4 separate regions of the Homo sapiens genome follow, and regions 1, 2 and 4 are each reported to be linked to region 3. The links are microRNA targets in miRTarBase. Many come from high-throughput screens and were not tested one by one. Region 3 holds a microRNA gene; each other region holds the end of a gene's coding sequence.
Evidence for each region. The annotated mature microRNA hsa-miR-607 reads GUUCAAAUCCAGAUCUAUAAC and lies in region 3 at 2,996-3,016, opposite strand. An mRNA with a match to its seed (bases 2 to 7 or 8) in the 3' UTR can be bound and repressed. Matches are read on the target gene's strand: a 7mer-m8 pairs with bases 2 to 8, a 7mer-A1 pairs with bases 2 to 7 and ends in A, and an 8mer does both.

Region 1: miRTarBase lists RALGAPB as a target of hsa-miR-607. Seed matches in the 3' UTR shown: 7mer-A1 at 1,505-1,511.
Region 2: miRTarBase lists ZNF146 as a target of hsa-miR-607. Seed matches in the 3' UTR shown: 7mer-m8 at 1,511-1,517 and 7mer-A1 at 1,585-1,591.
Region 4: the mRNA of PDE7B is a reported target of hsa-miR-607. Seed matches in the 3' UTR shown: 7mer-A1 at 4,401-4,407.

Annotation. Positions count from the first base shown.
Region 1 is chr20:38,574,131-38,579,191 of GRCh38, reverse strand. It overlaps RALGAPB (Ral GTPase activating protein non-catalytic subunit beta), which reads right to left. Exons shown (of 30, transcript NM_020336.4): 29 at 4,894-5,042; 30 at 334-4,418. The coding sequence ends at 4,225. Among named protein-coding and RNA genes, the nearest start is that of ADIG, 4.5 kb to the left of the region's middle. RefSeq lists a silencer at 1,260-1,460.
Region 2 is chr19:36,236,741-36,241,801 of GRCh38, forward strand. It overlaps ZNF146 (zinc finger protein 146), which reads left to right. Exons shown (of 4, transcript NM_007145.3): 4 at 1-2,028. The coding sequence ends at 579. It also overlaps a transcript of ZNF565 not described here. Among named protein-coding and RNA genes, the nearest start is that of ZNF146, 24 kb to the left of the region's middle. RefSeq lists a silencer at 4,144-4,344.
Region 3 is chr10:96,825,689-96,830,751 of GRCh38, forward strand. MIR607 (microRNA 607) reads right to left here and starts at 3,076; the gene lies at 2,981-3,076. It overlaps LOC102723665 (a long non-coding RNA gene), which reads right to left. Exons shown (of 1, transcript NR_135921.1): 1 at 4,944-5,063. RefSeq lists a cis regulatory region at 4,958-5,063.
Region 4 is chr6:136,191,052-136,196,112 of GRCh38, forward strand. It overlaps PDE7B (phosphodiesterase 7B), which reads left to right. Exons shown (of 13, transcript NM_018945.4): 13 at 563-4,523. The coding sequence ends at 789. Among named protein-coding and RNA genes, the nearest start is that of MTFR2, 57 kb to the right of the region's middle.

The DNA.
Region 1 (5,061 bases), not on the chromosome of region 3:
ATTTTCTGCAAGCAGAGGGCACAGCTGGCACTTTCTTGCTCCCGTAACATAAGCATCTATCTCCTCAGCAATTCGCAGCCCCTGAAAGGTGAGCCTCTATTGGCAGTGTTTTAATTATACAAGCTCCTTCCAGCAGAGAAGGCCAAATACTTTTCTTAAAATTAATCAAACTTTGAGTATTTCATGAAATACTCATTTAATGTTCATTTAAACTACAGATCTAAATTATAAAGGGCAGCCAAAGCCGAGCAGACATCCCCTGAAAGGGTAAAATTAACAGCACCAGTGTAGGAGTAAAGCCTCAGCCTGTATCCAAAAGCACACACAAAGTTATTAGATAAGAATCTCCTTAAAATTTAATTGACTAAATGTATTACATTCAATATTCCATGGGCTTCTTCTGGACAAAGGATCGGCATAAATACAAACAAACCTCTGGACCTTCTTCCCTAACCGACGAAGATGAAACACAGGAGGCAAGGGGCACGGGCACGCCTTCATATTTACACTTTGCCTTTACTTTACAGTTCAGTGCCAGAAATATTTACAGAAAATACAATAAGAAAAAATCATGTCTTGGCAACATACTGAAATTCATACAAACTGTATATATGATTTCAAGCAAATAATGATACTGCTTATTTTTTAGCCACAACTGCCAAGCCCTTCAGAGGAGAAAGATGTCTTGGTCACTATAAGAGATGAGGACTTGGGAAACTTGGTTTGCTTCAACAAGTATTTACTGGGCGCCTACTATATGCAAGGCACTGTGGAATCCCAAATTATACCTTTTCCCTCACCATTAAAAAAAGAAAAGCATCTGAAGAACATGAGTTGATATTCTGAGAAACACACTAGAAGTACATGGCTTCTTTAGCTACTAAGAAACCCACCGTTTGATTCCACATCGTACGGATAGACCACCTCCAATCTCTCCAACTCAGGAAAAGAGGCTGTCATGGAAATCTTTAAAACAGACCATCTGACTCCAATGTCATTTCATGTAAACACAGCAATCAGTTCTTTTCAGGAAGAGAGAACCTGAATGGGCTTTAAAATGGTGAATAGAGAACTACTGCCAGCAGCAGTGTCAAATTACCTCCAATACATGTTTCTTTTTTTATTATTTATTTATTTATTTATTTTTACCACCTACCACAAAACACATCTTTGAGCAAGGCTAACTTCCACTTTGGGTAAAGCTCCACCTTCCAGAAGAAATGAATACTCTTAAAGACTCTGCCTCTCTAGAACCCAGTCTGCAGAGTCTGACAAATGCTTCCCTAGTGTATGGAGAAGGTAACCGTTCATGAAGGCCTCATACACAGAACCTGCAGCAGGTAACTGACATTACTGGCCAAAGGTGTGGGTACTTGTATTCATCAATGAATCCAGAGGAAAATGGGCTGCTCTGAAATAAAGGATCTGGAAATGAAGGAAAATGTGCATGAGTATGCGAGTGTGTGTGTGTGTGTGTGTGTGTGTGTGTGTGTCTGATTAGTCCTTTCAAAGGCCCAATGGATGGAAGAGGGTCTCAAGAGGAAGCCCTAGACAAAAAGGAAAGCTAGCTAAATAAGGAAAGGATTAACAAGGTAAAAGCCCTCCTCACTGTCCTCAGTGCTCCCAACCAGAGGGGAGGAGAAAAGCTCCCTCCTGCAACTTAAGAAGGCAGTAGAAGGGAAACCTTACTTACCACCTTCCTCTTCACGGAATGCCACACTCATCCACCCCCGGCATACCCAACAGATATAGCAACTGAACTGTTTAAGCCACAGACAAAAGTGGTCCTGGTTTCCCCCCAGAGGCTAGAACATATGCTGGCAAATTTATCAATGGACTACTAAATATTAATATTAGGTGCTAAATATGTTCCTCCAGTGCTATTCTACTCAAAGTGATTTTTAACAAAGGCAGGTGGGTAAAAATAGTGACCATGAACTCAAATCCATACTAGTGAAAGAGCTAAGCGTTCTTCCCACTCCCTCTTTGGGCAGATGTTATTGTGAGCAGAAGGAACCAGCGCCTGGTAAGGTATGGGTATCCCATATTCCACTGGCTCCGTACACACTGGGAGTTTCATGCCTTCAGGGGCTGCACATCCTTCCTTCCCTGGAAGACGAGGAAGTCTCCCAGATCACAAATGCATTCAACATGATTGTTCATGTATCAAATACATTGGAATTACAAGGAGTTGCCAGAATTTAGAGCTAACTGAAGGATCAGCAAGACCAACCCTCATACACACACACATACAGCACATTTTTCTGAAATTAACTATGCCAAAAGTAAAAGTTTGATCTGAAGAATCACACTGAAGAAGTACATCTGCATCAGTTATTTTTAACCTCTGGAATGCTGTAAGTTACATATTAATTTATAGCCTTCTCTGCTCACTTCAACTAGAACAAGAGCCCATTTTCCCCTCAAAATGTCAATCTAGAATTACCTTGAAAGTTATTAAACCTCATCTTCTTCCTGTGAACTACTAGAACATTTTTAGGGTAGAATTTGCTCATCTTTATCCTATATGCCCTCTCCCATGTTACCATCTGGAAACATCAATTTATTGCCCAGCTTAAAAAGAAAATCAACTATTGAATAATACTATAACCTGAATGGAAACTGGAGTCATAGAAAGAGGAGGTTATCTTTACCTGAGCTTAAAACAAACATGAACAGGTTATGGCAAACTTTAAACCAAGAGCTGCTATGCCCATATTTCTTGCTTATAGATGACAAAATGCACATTTCTGGAATAAGAGACATTTGCACAGGGAATTAGGTCTCACACTATCCCCACTCCGTAAGTAAACCACCAAAACATCAAACCAAACAGATGGTTGTAGCTCTGACCCACAGTCGACTGACATCAGAGTTCAAGTGGGAAAACACCCCTTATACAACTGTGATCATTCCTCTTTGGACTTTAAATATCACTTATTTTCTTAAAATAATCTTACTAAAGAAGAAAGCACATGAGAATAGGATAAATGAGCAGTGTATACTGTAGCACTGTAACAGGAATCCTTGGATGTTCTGGGTCTGGCCACCTCAAAAGTTTTATCCCTGCAGAAAAGTAGCAGCGAGGTAATAGAAGTATTTCCAAAACCTGGCAGGGATCTGTTGGCTGGCAAAGTCCAGAAAACATGACAACAGCCATTTCTAACAGTAGCCACCCAAAGAGGTGGTCACTCATGTTTGTCAATTATGAGGAAATCCAGTAGTTCTCTGGGAGAGATCTGAATTAGTAGCGTTGAGAGGCTATTCCTGAACCCCATATTAGAATCCTTCACAAACTACTGCAGTTTGCTGCTTGGTCCTGAAATAAGAGACAATGGATGAAACCAAATAATTTTCAACCCTTATTGTGAATTTACATTTCTTTAAATAATATTTAATCAATGAATCACAAATATTTAACCTGTCATTATGTCACCCCGCTGGACAATAATGGAGAGAGTGGGGTATCACTGCTGTCTTATAACTTTTAACCCCACAAACTTTATTTGCATCCCCATTAAAGGACAAGGCCATGCTCCATTTCTGATCTGTTCCTGGGTCACTCAGAAACTGAGGCTTTCAGACAGATCTGTGCAGTGATGAGAAGGACAACTTTTTGAAATGTGGAGAAAAAAATATGACATCTTTTAATGTCAGGCTTCTTATCTGAGCAAAAAACATGTATCATCTTTTCTTTTTGTCAGTGTGACAGCTGGATGACAAGAAGACCTACAACTGAGTAGAAGGCTGTGACTTCTTTCCTTCTCCTCCATGCTATCAACATGAGTCTTTAAATGTCCTGTAAGATTCTGAGATTTTAATTTTGAATACAACCTCCTAAAAAGTGAGGTAAAAAACTATCTTCAACTTCTATATTGCAAATTTGTTGATACTACCAATGCACGTGTTTAACTGAGATGCATAAAAGCCTTTCTCCTCAAAAGGCTTATGTTTAACTAAAATTGTCACTTTTAAAAGAAAGTTTATGGCTAAAATGTATATCATCATTATCAGCAGGAGTGTGATTGTGTCTGGGAGCCCATTTCACTAGATAGCCCAAAGTCTTCTATCAAATGGGTTATAATGTGTTTCTTCTATTCTGGTGATTAAACAGTAAGCTCTTGGGAGTGATTTGTTTTTATTTTTACAGTGATCACCTATCAAACTGTTCTGCTGTGTTATAGTTCCCAAACTGGAGTTCAACAGTCTTAGAAATTCAGTGGTCTAAGAACTGCAGTTCTTGAGTCCAACCTCCTGGAAAAGTGAAGTATAAAACTCTGGCTCCAGCTGCTTGTTCCGGTACTTGTTGACAATGTCGGTGATTTTCTGTTTCCGGCGGACATGGGGGGGACTGTAGGAGTCACTTTCCAGTCTCTTTCTTCTACAAATGTTAATTACAGTCTGCCTCACCAGAAAGCCTTGAAAATAGAGAGTTTTAAAATAAACGTTAGAAACTAGTCACTTACGTAGGTGAACTGTAAGTATTCAGGTGAACTATTCTCCGCATACTCAAAACTATTTCATTCAATTTGCAAACTTCCCATCCCCAGAGAGATAGACATAGTGCTAAGATAAAACTGTCAGAAGAAACACACAATGACAAGGAAAAGGAGAATCAAAATCTATTCTAAAAACCTATTTTCTGTCCTGGATTACAAACAGCTATCTTCAATATTTTAATACTAGAAGTTAGTGAGGTTTTACTTACACTTACTAGATTAAGGACAGATTTAAAAAGAACGAAACATGCTCCCTTTTTAACAAGAGCCATACCATTTCCTACATGTGGAAGCTATTAATTATCACCATTTCCTTATTTTTACTTCTTTTTGGTTTATAAAAATGATAAAGAAAAAGAAAATTTAACTCTTCGGCCACATATGAAGACCTTACCAAGAGCTCGCCTGCTGACAATCATCCCATCCACAAGAGGGATGACCATATTAAATTTTCCAGTGGCTCCTTGAATTTTTATCCGGAATAATCCAGTGTTTAAAGGGTGGATGAAGATGACAGGAACTTCTTTTTCAAGAGTTGTAGATCTTAAGAAAAGAAAATTGT
Region 2 (5,061 bases), not on the chromosome of region 3:
GAGTGTAAAGATTGCGGGAAAGCTTTCATTCAGAAGTCAAACCTCATCAGACACCAGAGAACTCACACAGGAGAGAAGCCCTTTGTATGTAAGGAGTGTGGAAAAACCTTCAGTGGCAAATCCAACCTTACTGAGCATGAGAAAATCCATATTGGAGAGAAGCCTTTTAAATGTAGTGAATGTGGAACAGCCTTTGGCCAGAAGAAGTACCTCATAAAACATCAGAACATTCACACTGGAGAGAAACCCTATGAATGTAACGAATGTGGAAAAGCCTTCTCTCAGCGAACATCACTTATTGTACATGTGAGGATTCATTCAGGTGATAAACCTTACGAATGCAATGTTTGTGGAAAAGCCTTCTCTCAGAGCTCATCTCTCACTGTGCATGTGAGAAGCCATACAGGGGAGAAGCCCTATGGTTGTAATGAATGTGGGAAAGCTTTCTCTCAGTTCTCAACCCTTGCTCTGCATTTGAGAATACACACAGGTAAGAAGCCTTATCAGTGCAGTGAATGTGGGAAAGCTTTCAGCCAGAAGTCACACCACATTAGACACCAGAAAATTCATACTCACTAAAAACCCCATGAAAGCCTTGAAAGTGGGAAAGCTTTCATTAGAAATTTGCACCTCATCATGCCCCAGAAATAATCCTTCTGAAGCAAAGCACCACGAATGAGGTTAACTTTAACAAGTACTAAAAACTTAAGGGACACCAGAAAATTTGTACTGAAGAGAAAGACATGCATATGATTAAAACCCTGTGTCCAACAGAGAAACCTGCAGCAGAGATAATGGTGAAAGTTTAGGCACATTTTCACTAAAAGTGGGAACAGAAAATGGAGGCCTGTTTTTTATTGCTACCACCATAGATCTGGAGATCTTCGCCAGTAACAAGAAAAATTAAGTTGTAAATATTGGAAAGGAACAGACAAAAATAGATGACATGGTCATCTACAACTAATATTAAGACTCCTGTGGTATTGATTGAGCAGAGCAGAAGAGATTTCAAAAAAAGACCTATGCATTTATTAGAATTTGGAATATGATACAAGTGGCATCAGGAAATGAGGAAATAATGGAACTATTTTTTTTAAGTGGAGGTAGTTTGTTCTCCAAGGGGGAAAAATAGACCATGAACTATACACAAAAGTGAATCCAGAGATTAAAAACAGAAATATGGAAAAGCTATGTACTAAAATGCATATGACCTTGGGAATAGGGAAACATTCCTTGGAACAATTTGAGAAATACTTAGCGGTTCTACTTATGAGTATGAATGCTCAGGAAATACGCACTAGGATATTTACTGTGGCTTGATTTGTAGTAGCCAAAAATTAGAAACAACTGAGAAAGCCCATCACGAACAATATGGGAAATTCTTATGTAATACTATATATCTGTAAAATGCAACAAATGAAATCCACATGTATTAACAGAAAGATCCCAGAATTGTTGAGGGGGGATCAAGTTGCAGAATGATACAGATAGTACAATGACTTTTTTGTAAATTTGAATTAAAAGTTTCCTCATAAAACTCAGTACTATCTATTGGTAATGGATGCATATATGTATGTACATGTTTTTGAAACGGATTGGAAGGATACAGACCAAACTCTTGATAGTGGTCACCTGTGAAGAGTGGAGAAGGGAAAATAATGAGTGTGGGAGGTGGGATGGGTATTGGTTAAAGGGGACTTCAGCTTTTTATATAAACATCCACTTCTCTTTCAAAAGACTTCAAGTAAATATAAGAAGATACTGATTGATTCTGGATTGTGGTATAGGGATATCTTGTCTTATTTTTTGTACTTTTCTGTATTTTTAAAATTTCTCAAAATAGGAATGGGAGTGAGGATGGGAATGCTGTATCTGTGGAAGTCATGTTATACTGGATTCATTTCCAATTAAATACTAAACATTTTATAGAAAATATTTCTAAAATTTTATCACGGATGAATGGATGGACTTGCTCTCTATGTAATATGAAATTAATCTATTTTATTAAAATTTAAAAGGACAGCACAATCCAAATCTGTTTTAATTATTTTAACATGGCATACACACTATATCGGGGTCCCCAGCTCCCCCCAGCTGCATGGCAGGAGGTGAGTGGCGGGTGAGCGAGCATTGCCACCTGAGCTCCACCTCCTGCCAGATCAGCGGTGGCATTAGTTCTCATAGGAGCGCGAACCCTATTGGGAACTGTGCATGTGAGGAATCCAGGTTGTGCGCTTCTTATGAGAATGTAACGCCTGATGATCTGAGGTGGAACAGTTTCATCCTGAAAACATCCCATCCCCATTCTTCTACCCCCACAAACCGTCCGTGGAAAAATTGTCTTCCATGAAACAGGTCCCTGGTACCAAAAAGGTTGGGGACCGCTGCACTATATGATCTCTGTCTTCGTATTTCTAACATTTTGCAGAATGAGCTTAGAAAACTTTAACTTTTTCTTTGTTCATACATGCACAGGCTTCATATAATTGGTCTTTTTCAGTTAGGCTGATTTTGGAATGTCAGTTTTCCTCTCCTGCATATTTCCATGGGAAACGTGTGCATTAAATATTAAATTTTTGATAATATCTTTTTTTTTTTTTTTCCCATCTTGCTCTGTTGCCCAGGCCAGAATACCATGGCAGGATCTTGGCTCACTGCAATCTCCTCTGCTTACTGGGCTCAAGCAGTCCTCCGACCTCAGCCTCCCAAGTAGCTGGGACTACAGGCACGCACCACTATGCTGTGCCAATTAAAAAAAAAAAATTGTAGCGATGGGGTCTCCGTATATTGCCCAGATTAGTCCCAAACTCCTGGGGTGAAGTGATTCTCCATGGCCTGTTCAAGTGCTGCCATTACATTACAGGTATGAGTCACCATGCCCAGCTAATTTTATTTTTAAAAAGAGAAAACAACTTCCCATAACTTCCACAGTTCAGTGCATTAGATACCAACACCTGCGTGTCTGTCTTAACCTGCGAGCTCTGTCACTCCTCCCACTGCTGTTACAGAGAGAGAATGGGACGGGTATGAGAAAAATGGCTCAGACCCTAGACAGAGTTCTATTTTGTAAACCAGCCCTTCATGAAAATTTTTTTATTCTTTGATCACATTATAATATAAAGAATATTATTAAAGGTTTTCTTGAATAATGGTGAATGTCAATAATATACAGCATTTGAGCTTGATTTTGAAACCTTAAAAAACTCATTAAATGGCACTGCATCACTGTATCTTTTAGCCTTTTTGGAGGAATTAGATACTTAAATGTCTAAATGAATCTGCCCTTTATATTATGATGTACCCCATCTTTTTCTCTGTTTTCCCTGTTTGCACATATATTTCACATTTAAAGGTGTTGTCTTTATGATACAGTTGGCCCTCTGTATCCATGGGCTCTGCATCCATTTATCAACGAACCCTGGATGGAAAGTGTTTAAAATATACAACAATTTTAAAAATACAAATGTTAATATACAACTATTTGGATAGCATTTACATTGTATTAGGTATTATGACTAATCTAGAGATGATTCTAGCTAGGCATGTGCCACACATCTGTAGTCCCAGCCACTTGGGAGGGTGAGCTGGGAGGATTGCTTGAGCCCAGGAGTTTGAGGCTGCAGTCAGCCGTGATTGCACCACTATATTGCAGCCTGGGTGACAGAGACCCTGTCGAAAACAAACAAAACCAGGAGGAAAAACACAGGGATGGAGACAGATCAGTGGGAAGAGAATTGAGAGTCCACAAATGCTATGGGTTGAATGTCCCACCCAAAACTCAATGTTGAAATTTAATTGCCATGGTAATGGCATGAAAGGTTGAGACCCTTAAAATGGCCATGAAGGGGCTGGTCGTGGTGGCTCACACCTGTAATCTCAGCACTCTGGGAGGCCGAGGCGGGTGGATCACCTGAGGTCACGAGTTCAATACCAGCCTGGCCAACATGGCAAAACCCCGTCTCTACTAAAATTACAAAAATTAGCCGGGTGTAGTGGCACACACCTGTAATCCCAGCTACTTGGGAGGCTGAGGCAGGAGAATTGCTCCAACCCAGGAGGCAGAGGTTTGCAGTGAGCCAGGATCGTGCTACTGCACTCCAGCCTGGGAGACAGAATGAGACTCTATCTCAAAAAAAAAAAAAAAGATGTCCATGAAGTCTCCACTTTCATGAGTAGGATTGGTGTCATGATAAAAGGGCAAGTTTTGTCCCCACTTGCTGTCTCTTGTCTTTCCTCCATGGGATGACATAACAAGAAGGCCCTTGCCAGATGTCAGTCTCTCAGTTGTGGACTTCCCAGCCTCCAGAACTGTGTACCAATATGTTCTTGTTCCTTATACGTTAACCAGACTCAGGTATTCTGTTATACCAACACAAATCAATTGATACACTGTGGGCAACTGATTTTCAACTAGAATGCCAAACTTATTTAATGGAGGAAAGAATAATTCCCTTAAAAAATGATGTCGGGGGCAGTGGCTCACGCCTGTAATCCCAGCACTTTGGGAGGCCAAGGCGGGCGGATCACAAGGTCAGGAGTTCGAGACCAGCCTGGCCAGCATGGCAAAACCCCGCCTCTACTAAAAATACAAAAATTAGCCAGATGTGGTAGCGGGGGCCAGTAATCCCAGCTACTTGGGAGGTTAAGGCAGGAGAATCGCTTGAACCCAGGAGGCAGAGGTTGCAGTGAGCCGAGATCGTGCCGTTGAACTCCGGCCTGGGTGACAAGAGCAAGACTCTGTATTAAAAAAAAAAAAAAAAAAAGTGTTGGGGCCGTGCGCAGTGGCTCACGCCTGTAATCCCAGCACTTTGTGAAGCGGAGGCGGGTGGATCACCTGAGGTCAGGAGTTCAAGATCAGCCTGGCCAACATGGTGAAACCCTGTCTACTAAAAATACAAAAAATTAGCTGGGCGTGGTAGTGGACACCTATCATCCCAGTACTTTGGGAGGCTGAGCTAGGAGAATCGCTTGAACCCAGGAGGTGGAGGTTGCAGTGAGCTGAGATTGTGCCACTGCACTCCAGCCTGGCAAGAAGAGTGTCAAAAAAAAAAAAAAAAAAAA
Region 3 (5,063 bases):
GGAGGCTGAGGCAGGAGAATGGCGTGAACCCGGGAGGCGGAGCTTGCAGTGAGCCGAGATTGCATCGCTGCACTCCAGCCTGGGCGACAGAGCGAGACTCTGTCTCAAAAAAAAAAAAAAAAAAAAAAAGAAAAAACTAGATTTGTTGTTGCCAGCGGGTGAGGAGATGGGGAATGATGAATAACTGCTGATATTTCAGGGTTTCTTTCTGGGGTGATGAAATGTTCTAAAAGTGATTGTGGTGATGGTTGCACAACTTTGTGAATATACGAAAACCCCCTGAAGTGTACATTTTATTCTTTTATTATTTTGTAATGGTACTAAGTTCTAAAGATAGTAGAAAAGCTAATATCATCAAGTTCCTTAAATGATAGTAAGAAAACCTTCCGGGCTGGGCGTGGTGGTGGGTGCCTGTAATCCCAGCTACTTGGGAGGGTGAGGCAAGAGAACTGCTTGAACCCGGGAGGTGGAGGTTGCAGAAAGCTGAGATTGTGCCACTGCACTCCAGCCTGTGTGATAGAGTGAGACTCTGTCTCAAAAAAAAAAAAAAAAAGAAAGAAAGAAAGAAAAGAAGGAAAGAAGGAAAGAAGAAAGAAAGAAAAGAAAAGAAAGAAAGACTTCTGATGCCAGAAGCCCCCTCCATCAACAATCTGTCGAGCAATGTTCTTCACTCAGAGGCTCCCATCTGACACTAGGTAGGGAAGGCGTTGGTGCCCTTTGCCCATAACTAGCCCATGACAGAATGCTGCCTTGGACAGAGCCCTCACTCACTCCAAAGAGGCCAGGAATGCTAGGTAGGGAGGAATTTACATGCCTAGGCCAGCTCTGGACCAGCCCCAGTCCTATGGTACAGAGAAGGACAGTGGCAGCTAACGAGCTTGGAAAAGTCCAAAGCCAGCCTTGTTTAACACCAGTAACAATTTTACCTCTACACTGAGGGCTAACATGCATCCAATTCCAGTTCCTCTTTCTCCATCTAAGTAACTCCAGAGGTGGCACTAAGCCTGGCCCACTCACACAATCTAGGACAGAGCAATAGTCAGACATCTCAATGGGCTCAGCTTCCCAGTAATAGGAGTTACTGAGAACAGCACTGGGGGAGCCTCTGTCCATGTCAAAAAGGAGCATCTAAGAGGGGTTACTGCCATAACTCCATCCTTCTTGCTGTGCTTTGAGAAACAGAAGCCAAATCCTACCTCCCTTCAAAGAGCTCTAGTTGCTATGGGAACCAATCCCACCCCCCACTTGAGTCCCGAGACTTAGGAGGGTATGGAGCCAGGAGGAGGCTCCCGGGTGTCTCAAGAGCAGCCACACTTCTCTATCAAGGATGCGTTCACACAGTGAACGCTCATCTTACGTTCGTCATCCTGGACCGTTAGGGAGAAGAGAATGACCTTGGTGGGACTACAGGTCTGAAAGAGCCAGGAACAGATCAATAGGCACTCCCCTCTTATAGTGCAAACTTTGAGTGCAAAGTTGGATTGATGAAGCTCACTGTTGAGGGTCAGGCAGGTCCCCTGACAGTAAGGGAAGCTGGAAGTCTTGGGTGCAACAATACACTCACCGCAGGCAGCTCTGTGAAGGTTCACCTTGCAATCCTGCAGATGACAGAGCTTCTCTGCTGGAAATATATCCTGGCCATGGTCTATCTCCCCATGATTCTGGCATGGGATCCCCAGAGTCAGCTGCTCCACAGTAGGGATAAAGCATTTCTGGACGTAAGGCAGGTGAAACAGAGGTGGCTGTGTTGGGGACAAGGTCATGAACAGCAACACTATGTCTCACTTGCCTTTGATACTAAAACACTGGTTCAGGCTGGGGTCAGACGCATTAGTAGCTGTAATCTTTTCCTCTGCCAAGAGGGTGGGCACCACCTCCATCCAATATATTAGTAAACAGTAGATCTCCAATAATGATCCTCCTTTCTGACTGGTAGGATGAAAAGATAATGGGGAAAGAGCCCAAGAGGAATCTTTCGCAGTTGGTGGTGGTTGGGGGGCAGGGGTTGATGGGTCTTGAACTCTAGAACAAGCTTAGTGGCATGGGGATAGTGGACACCCAAACCCATAGCTATATCAAGGAAACCTCCAAGAAGGGAACTGCCTCAAAACAGACAAGCCAGTAGCTGTGTAGGAACTAGGAGCTTTTGGATGTGAGGGTAAAACCATGTTGCCAGGCAGAAAAGATCTCATTTATGCAGAAAGGCAGCACCCGGCTGGGACAGTCAAACATTTCTACCATGCTAAAACATGCGCCAAAGACCCAGAGCCAAGAGCCCAGGAAAAAGCCAAGAGATGCCACTCCTCCCACTGCCTGCTTTCAGATGAAGTGGACACTTCAAATGGGCGAATTTTATGGTATGTGAAATATATCTCAATAAAACTACAGAAGAAAAATAAATGTCACACGTACAACATAAAGTAAAATCATACATGTTTTCTAGGCCAGTGGCATAGAGGTATACAGGCTGAAAAGAGAGAAACTCTGAAAGTTATTTATTTATTGAAACAGGGTCTTGCTTTGTTGCCCAGGCTGGAGTGCAGTGGCATGATATCAGCTCACTGCAACCTCTGCTTCCCGGCTTCAAGTGATTTTCCTGCTTCAGCCTCCAAAGAAGCTGGGATTACAGGTGCACCCCATACCCAGCTAATTTTTTTTGTATTTTTGGTAGAGACAGTGTTTCACCATGCTGTCCAGGCTGGTCTCGAACTCCTGACCTCAAGTGATCCTCCCGGCTTGGTCTCCCAAAGTGCTGAAATTACAGGCGTGAGCCACCATGCCCGGCCTGAAAGTCTTTTATTAAGCAAAAAAAGCCACTACATGAGTAGTTTCTCAAAAAGACCAAAAGCCGTGTGACCAAGTGACATGGCTTCCTTTCTGTCTGGCTAGGTCTTGTCTCTGACTTAGGTCTCATTTCCCCGAAATAGCACTGGAAGCAAAAAATAGTGTGATGGTTAAAGAGCCGGCTTTAAGTAACTCGCCCAAAGTCACACAAGTTATAGATCTGGATTTGAACCCAGGCAGTCTGGCTCCCTGGGTTCCAATCCAGATCTATAACCTGTGTGACTTTAGGCAAGTTACTTAACCTCTCTGTGCTCTGTTATAAAATGGGATACACGATTGGGTTGTTGCGAAGAATAAATAACATAATCTTTGAAACGTGCTTCAAAAAGCATCTCTTGCTTGTTGGAATTTATTTGAAGTTGACTATGTTTTTTTAAAAAAGCCTCCCATTAGGACATGCTTTTTTTAGAAGGCCCCAATCATTTCATCCTCCCATTTGTCAATGATCATTTCTATGTTGCAAGCCATCTTTAATCAGACACCAGGTAGTAGTTGATCTAATGCTGACAAGCCAAGTCCTACTCCCCTTCCCTGACATTCCTTTTCTGCCATTGTGAGAACTATAGAACATGGCTCAGAGGTTGTTTTCAAAGGCTGAGGTCATTGCTATCATTCCTTCATACTCTCACAGATTAACTCCAAACTGCAGAAGCATCTTGGTTTCCCATCATCCTGCAGACTGGGCAAACAGATAGGAGCTTAGGAAGGCCTAATCAGAGAACAGATGCTCATTTCATGCTAAGAATGTGCTAGCACTGTACGTGAATAGTTTCATTTCATTTTCACACAAACCCCATCTTGCAGACTATTATTATCCTCTTTTTCACATGAGGAAATTAATGACCAGAAAAGTTAATATGTCAAGGTCACACAGCCACTGAAAAATGGAGCCAGAATTCCAACCCAGCTGTCTTCAGACCCTATTAACTGCCATGTTATATTACCTGCCCCTCCCTAGAATGTAAGAGTTTACAGCTAAGGCCCTCTTTAACAGTAGCCCAAAGCAACAGAGGTCAGAAATTCTGTCTTATCTATCTATGTCCTCGGTGCCTGGGACACCGCCTGCCATGTGATAGGAACACAGAATGTCCAACTGCTTAACTGTGCTCGGAACATGTCATGTAGAGTTAAGTGAATCCTCCAGTTGCAGAGTCTATTTTCTACTTGTAAGACTATTTATTTATTTACTTATTATTTATTTATTTATCAAGATGGAGTCTCAGCTCTGTCGCCCAGGCTGGAGTGCAGTGGCACGATCTCGGCTCACTGCCACCTCCACTTCCTGGGTTCAACGGATTCTCCTGCCTCAGCCTCTTGAGTAGCTGGGATTACAGGTGCCCACCACCATGCCTAGCTAATTTTTGTATTTTTAGTGGAGACGGGGTTTCACCATGTTGGCCAGGCTGGTCTTGAACTCCTGACCTCAAGTGATCTGCCCACTTCAGCCTCCCAAAGTGCAGAGATTACAGGCGTGAGCCACCGCGCCAAGCCAACTTTCTACTTGTAAGACAATTTAGAGGGGTTTAGAGTCACAGAGATCTTAGTTAGAATTTGGTAGCTATGTGATCTTGACAAATGTATTTAACTCATCTGAGTCTTGTGTCCCTAACTTGGAAAATGTGGTAAATATATACTCATAGCATTATTATCTGGATGGAATGAAACAATGATAAACATATAATAGGTGCTCAATGAATATTAGCTGTTACTATTGCCTCCCTATCCTTTCTTCCAAATAGGTCTTTGTGATAGGTCAACCATGAGTTAGTTCCCAACTCAAAATAAGTGAAGCAGAAATTGGAACTCAGAGTAGAGTAGTAAAACTAGCATTAAATTGGAAATTGGGAAACTTGTCTCCTGGCTTTTGTTGCCCTTTCTCTACCCAGCAACTATGTAATCTTGGTCAAATCACCTTACTTGTCTGGGCTTCCAATTTCATATCTTAAGTTACAAAATTGATCTCTGAAGCCTCTAGGATTCTCTGAATCCATATGTCTGGGACTAAGAGATTATGTCGAGGAATTATTACCCTTGGTTTGATTGTTTTTTAAACAAATTAACTTGGGGTGGTTGGAAAACACATTGATTATTTACTCATCTTAGAGTTACACGTTGTTCATTTATTTGAAACTGAAACGTATTTCCTCCAAACACCGTAGAAACTTAAAGGCCGCAAAAGACTCACACCCACCACCTAGCGGCGAAAAAAGGAAGTTTCA
Region 4 (5,061 bases), not on the chromosome of region 3:
CTCCCTCTGCAAGTAATAGCCAGTATTCACTGGGAGTTTACTATGTGCCAAGAGTTTTCTAAGCATTGTACATACATTAAGTCATTTAATTGTCATAACAACCCTACGAGTTTAGTATTCTCTTTAGCGTCTTTTTGCAAGTGAGGAAACTGAGGCACAAAGCCATTCAGGGACAAGCCCAAAGTGACACATCTTATGCTCCTAGGCTGAGGGTAGCCACCATTATCTTGCTTGCCCTTCTGGCCCCAGAGCTGGAAATTTTTATTAGGCTGAAAACATTTGCCATTTCTCCTCACTGGTACACATCAAGGAAATACAATAAAACCTAAGTAAGGCCGGGCACAGTGGCTCAGGCCCGTAATCCCAGCACTTTGGGAGGCCGAGGCGGGCGGATCACTTGAGGTCGGGAGTTCAAGGCCAACCTGGCCAACATGGGGAAACCCCATCTCTACTAAAGATACAAAAATTAGCCGGGCGTGGTGGGTCCCCAGTCATGCTCGGGAGGGAGTAAGGAGCGGGTTTCACCACGCTGTGATGCTGAGCCTTGACTTGCCTGTTCTAGGTTTCATGAGCTACATCGTGGAGCCGCTCTTCCGGGAATGGGCCCATTTCACGGGTAACAGCACCCTGTCGGAGAACATGCTGGGCCACCTCGCACACAACAAGGCCCAGTGGAAGAGCCTGTTGCCCAGGCAGCACAGAAGCAGGGGCAGCAGTGGCAGCGGGCCTGACCACGACCACGCAGGCCAAGGGACTGAGAGCGAGGAGCAGGAAGGCGACAGCCCCTAGGGGCCGGCCCAACTTAGACGCGGCTCTCCTCCGGCAGGGCCCCCAGAGGGCAGAAGCAGCGTGGAGGGGCCCTCACGCAGCAGCCCAGCCACTTTCTGAGTGTTGTCCTGGGGCTCTTTGGAACGCCATCTTCCTCCCACTTACCTGCCTCCCCTCCTTTTCGCAAATGTACAGAAGCCATTTGTCACCTCAGCATTCGCTGCCGAAATGAGCAACTCCATTCAGTAACGTGGGAGCTGATCCCACGGGCAGGCTCTCCCTGCTCCAGGAGAAGACTAGGAGGAAGAATGAGGTGCTCCTGCCGTGTCCGCCTTGTTCCGGGTCGCACTGGAACAGGCAGCAATTCCTAAGTCCGGAGCGTTTGAGCGTTTGCTATCTGACTGCTGATCTGCGTGACAGAAACACCAGCATATTTGCAACGCCAAGGATATTGGTCTTAAGTGCAAGAGCACAAATGAGAGTGTGAGAGAAAGTACCTTCTATTTTAATAATAATATTATTATAAAAATAATAAATCTTTTTAACTTTTATATTTTATGCACTAGACAATGGATCTGCAACTTTGGACTAAGGTCATTCAATGTACCCAAACTTGAACAGGGGGTTCATTGTTTTGCTATTGACTTTATTATGCCACTTTGGGGCAGAGACTTGGCATCTTCGCAGTTTAAGAAACCACGTTTCCTATCCAATCCGAAGGGAAGGTGCTGTACAGTTCATTCCTTTGCACCATTAGCCAATCTGTCTTTTATGGATTCTGTGACATGTTTATATTCACCCATGTACATTTTCTGTAAATACCAAACGCTACTGATTCCCATGCCAAAATACATGAGTATTATGGGATTGCTACCTGTATAAACAATGGCACTGTGAAAATACTGTTAGTTTTAATACAAGAGAATGCATTTGTAAATATGGTATAGAGTTTATTAATATACTATTGTTTGCAGATAAAGGCCTTAACTTTAAACATCTTTCATCTTCTGAAAGCTGCCCAACTTAAATCCTCATAGATGTCTTTCTCAACTGCCTTCCCATGTTCATCTGTATGTTTTCCAGCTAAGGTCACAAACCAAAACTGAATAAAGTCTTTGAGGAAACATTTTGGAAACTTCACATGCATTCCGCTTGAGACCATAGTGTTTAATCTATGGCACCAAGCATCGTTTCCTCAGATTAATGAGACCCTTCAACAAGCCTGAATCAGTCACTTTTCAACACAGCGATGTTTTAACAAGCCAGCTGCTAAGCTTGTGTTTATGTGACTCTTGTTACAGATCATGGCGGTGCGTCAGCCTCACAGGAGACATAGCAGGTCTCAGAAACCTTCTATGACCCTGTCATCTAACCATCAGGGAATTCCCTGCTCCCATGCCACACATTTGTCTATTATGGCTATAGTACCAAAGTACTTTTGGTGTTTGGTTGGTGTGCATTTCTTTAGTGTCGATAGTAACTGGATTTTTCTTTTTCCTTAATCTCATGTGAACAACTACCCAACTGTTTAGCTGAAGTTCATATTATTTAAGTAAAGAAAATATTTCAGTTTTATAACAGACTTTACCTTCCTGGCAGGTCATTGTAGTTAATTATGTCTCTAGCTTGGAGTGTCACCTTGGAATTTCGTTGCCATTTTTTCTCAGACACCTGGCCGTAAAATCAGTTTGTTACAGCATTCTTCTCTAGGCTGCTAAACGCTGTGCATTGAACCTTTTCTTTAGAAGTTTCAGCGTAACTAATGTTAGATGAAAATTGTTGATGCCCCTTTCTTTTTACTTTAAACAATGTGGTAGTGGGAGAATGACTGTTTCTGCCACTATCAACCTGATCCTCATGCTGATAGAATGACAGCTAGCACTTATTTCCTAAGTGCAACTGTTTTAGAGATTTTTCTCCTAACATGCAAAGGAAATACTGATTGGCCTATAATAAGTTCCTATAGGGAGACTGAGGCTTGCAGAATTAAGGTTCAGGGGAAATTTTGGAAAGTTGGTTGTATTTTCATTGAAGTAGGAGAGATTATCAGATGGTGCTAAAGAAAGTGTGAAGATCTTATGAAATAGGTGGATGGTAAGTTGAAATTATTGATGTGGGTAAGAAGGGAGGTTGTGGAAAGTTAACACTAGCTTTGTATTTTTTTTTCTGTAAAACTGTGAACTGATATATTTTCCTTTATCACTTTAGTATTCTGCAGTTCTCAGCTTGGTGAGGCTCCAAAAGAGAATATGTCAGATGTATTCCTACTTCCAAACCTGTCTTACTTTGGTTTGATGGTACACATAGGGCTTTTGAACAGTCTATTTTTAATGTATATGAGGTCAAATCAAGGAAGGCAATTGCTGGGGACAAGAAAAGTAGAGGTAGGAAAGAAGACACTATTTTAGCTAATGGGGTTTCTTGGGACTAAAAAATGGCTTTGTTTAAATTATAATTATATAATAATTTAAATAAATGAGATTGGAGGTATTCTTAGTAGTTCTGAGTTGATAGTTTACATTACAATTAGGTCTTGAAGAAGAGCTCACAGAGAAAAAACTACCAAATATCCAATGGGTAAGCCCATGATGTAGCCACTAGTACAATAAAAATCTGAAGTAAAATGAGGCATAAACTTGATGCAGCTGCCTCCCTCATTCAACTGGGGAGTTCTTGAGTTCCTCATTTGTTGGTAAAAAGAAAAAGAATGTGAAAATGTCTCTTTTTTTCTTGGCTATTAGTGGCTGTCTTGCAATATTTCAATAGGAGTCCAATTACTAGTTAAAACACTGGCGGGGTGCGGTGGCTCACGCCTGTAATCCTAGCACTTTGGGAGGCCAAGTTGGGCAGATCACAAGTTCAAGAGATCGAGACCATTCTGGCCAACATGGTGAAACCCCGTCTCTACTAAAAATACAAAAATTAGCTGGGCATGGCAGTGCGTGCCTGCAATCCCAGCTACTCAGGAAGCTGAGGCAGGAGAATCGCTTGAACCTGGGAGGTGGAAGTTGTAGTGAACTGAGATCGCACCACTGCACTCCAGCCTGGCAACAGAGCTAGAATCCGTCTCAAACAAACAAACAAAAAATCCCACAGCTATTGGATCATCCACAGATTTTTTCTTTACAATCTTGTTCTCCTTGTCCATGGACCATCAATAGTTGACTTGCCAGGTTTAATTCTTTCATTGCTTGAGAAGAAAGGAATCAAAGGACTGTGTGTAGTAAGCTGACGGTAAAGTTAAGATTAAATTAAGACAGAGAGAGAATACATATCACTGCCAGGCCTGATAGGAAAAATCTGCTCTTCCTTTTAATAACAGTGATGAATTGTCAGGACCTTATTTAGGAAACCCTGACCTACCCATAACTCCCTGCTAGGCTAAGTAGAAACCAGGTTATTTCTCCCTGCTTATGGCTCCCCGCAAAGGGACTTGCAGCGTGTCCTGCAACTTTGTCTTCAGATAGTGCTTCCTACAAAACTAGGTCTTGTTTTGTAATCTTTTCTCGTGTTGAATCAGATCTGCTTACTTATTTAGGTTTGGTTATGAGCTTGTATCTCACTGTATTTCTCATGCTTTGTTCTTTTAAACAAATCCTTTAAACTGTGTCATTTTGTATACACATGTGAGGTTTGAAAAAAAAAAAAAAAAAAAAAAGAACTACCTTGTGAGTTTTGCTCAAAATGTGGCCTAAGTAGCCATTGGCATGTCTAGATGAACAAATAAAAATAAAGATAATTTCTTTAAAATATCACAAGATGAAAATATCCTAATTCTCACCAGGTAACATGTTACCAGTCAATGAATTGGATTCAATAAAAGGATCCCACTGCTCAGGAGAGGAAACATTCGAGGAAAGAACACAGATGCAAACATGGCCCACGTGACTCATTCCACTTTGGGGGCTACAGAAACGCCCATGTCCATGAAGGTATCACCTGCTCGTTAGTGCCAAGTTAGGGAAACAGGGCCACCATTCAGCTTTACATTTCCCCAGAGTCCTGATATTTTTCTGACTCATATTTGTCAAACTCATATGAATGAGAATGAGGTACAATGTTTTAAGTTGTAAAAACATAGCCAACTCAGGGCAAGAATTATTTGTGAAAAATATGGTCTCACATTTCAGGATTACTGGCCATGAAGAACAATAGAACAGTTCAGGCAGAACTGTTCTATTCTAAATCTGGTATTCTAAATCCATCTGGAAATAGAGAAGAAGAAGAACACTGCCAATGTTTCCAATGTTTTCTTGTATCTTTATGTATTCTCCCATATTCATTTTATTAAGA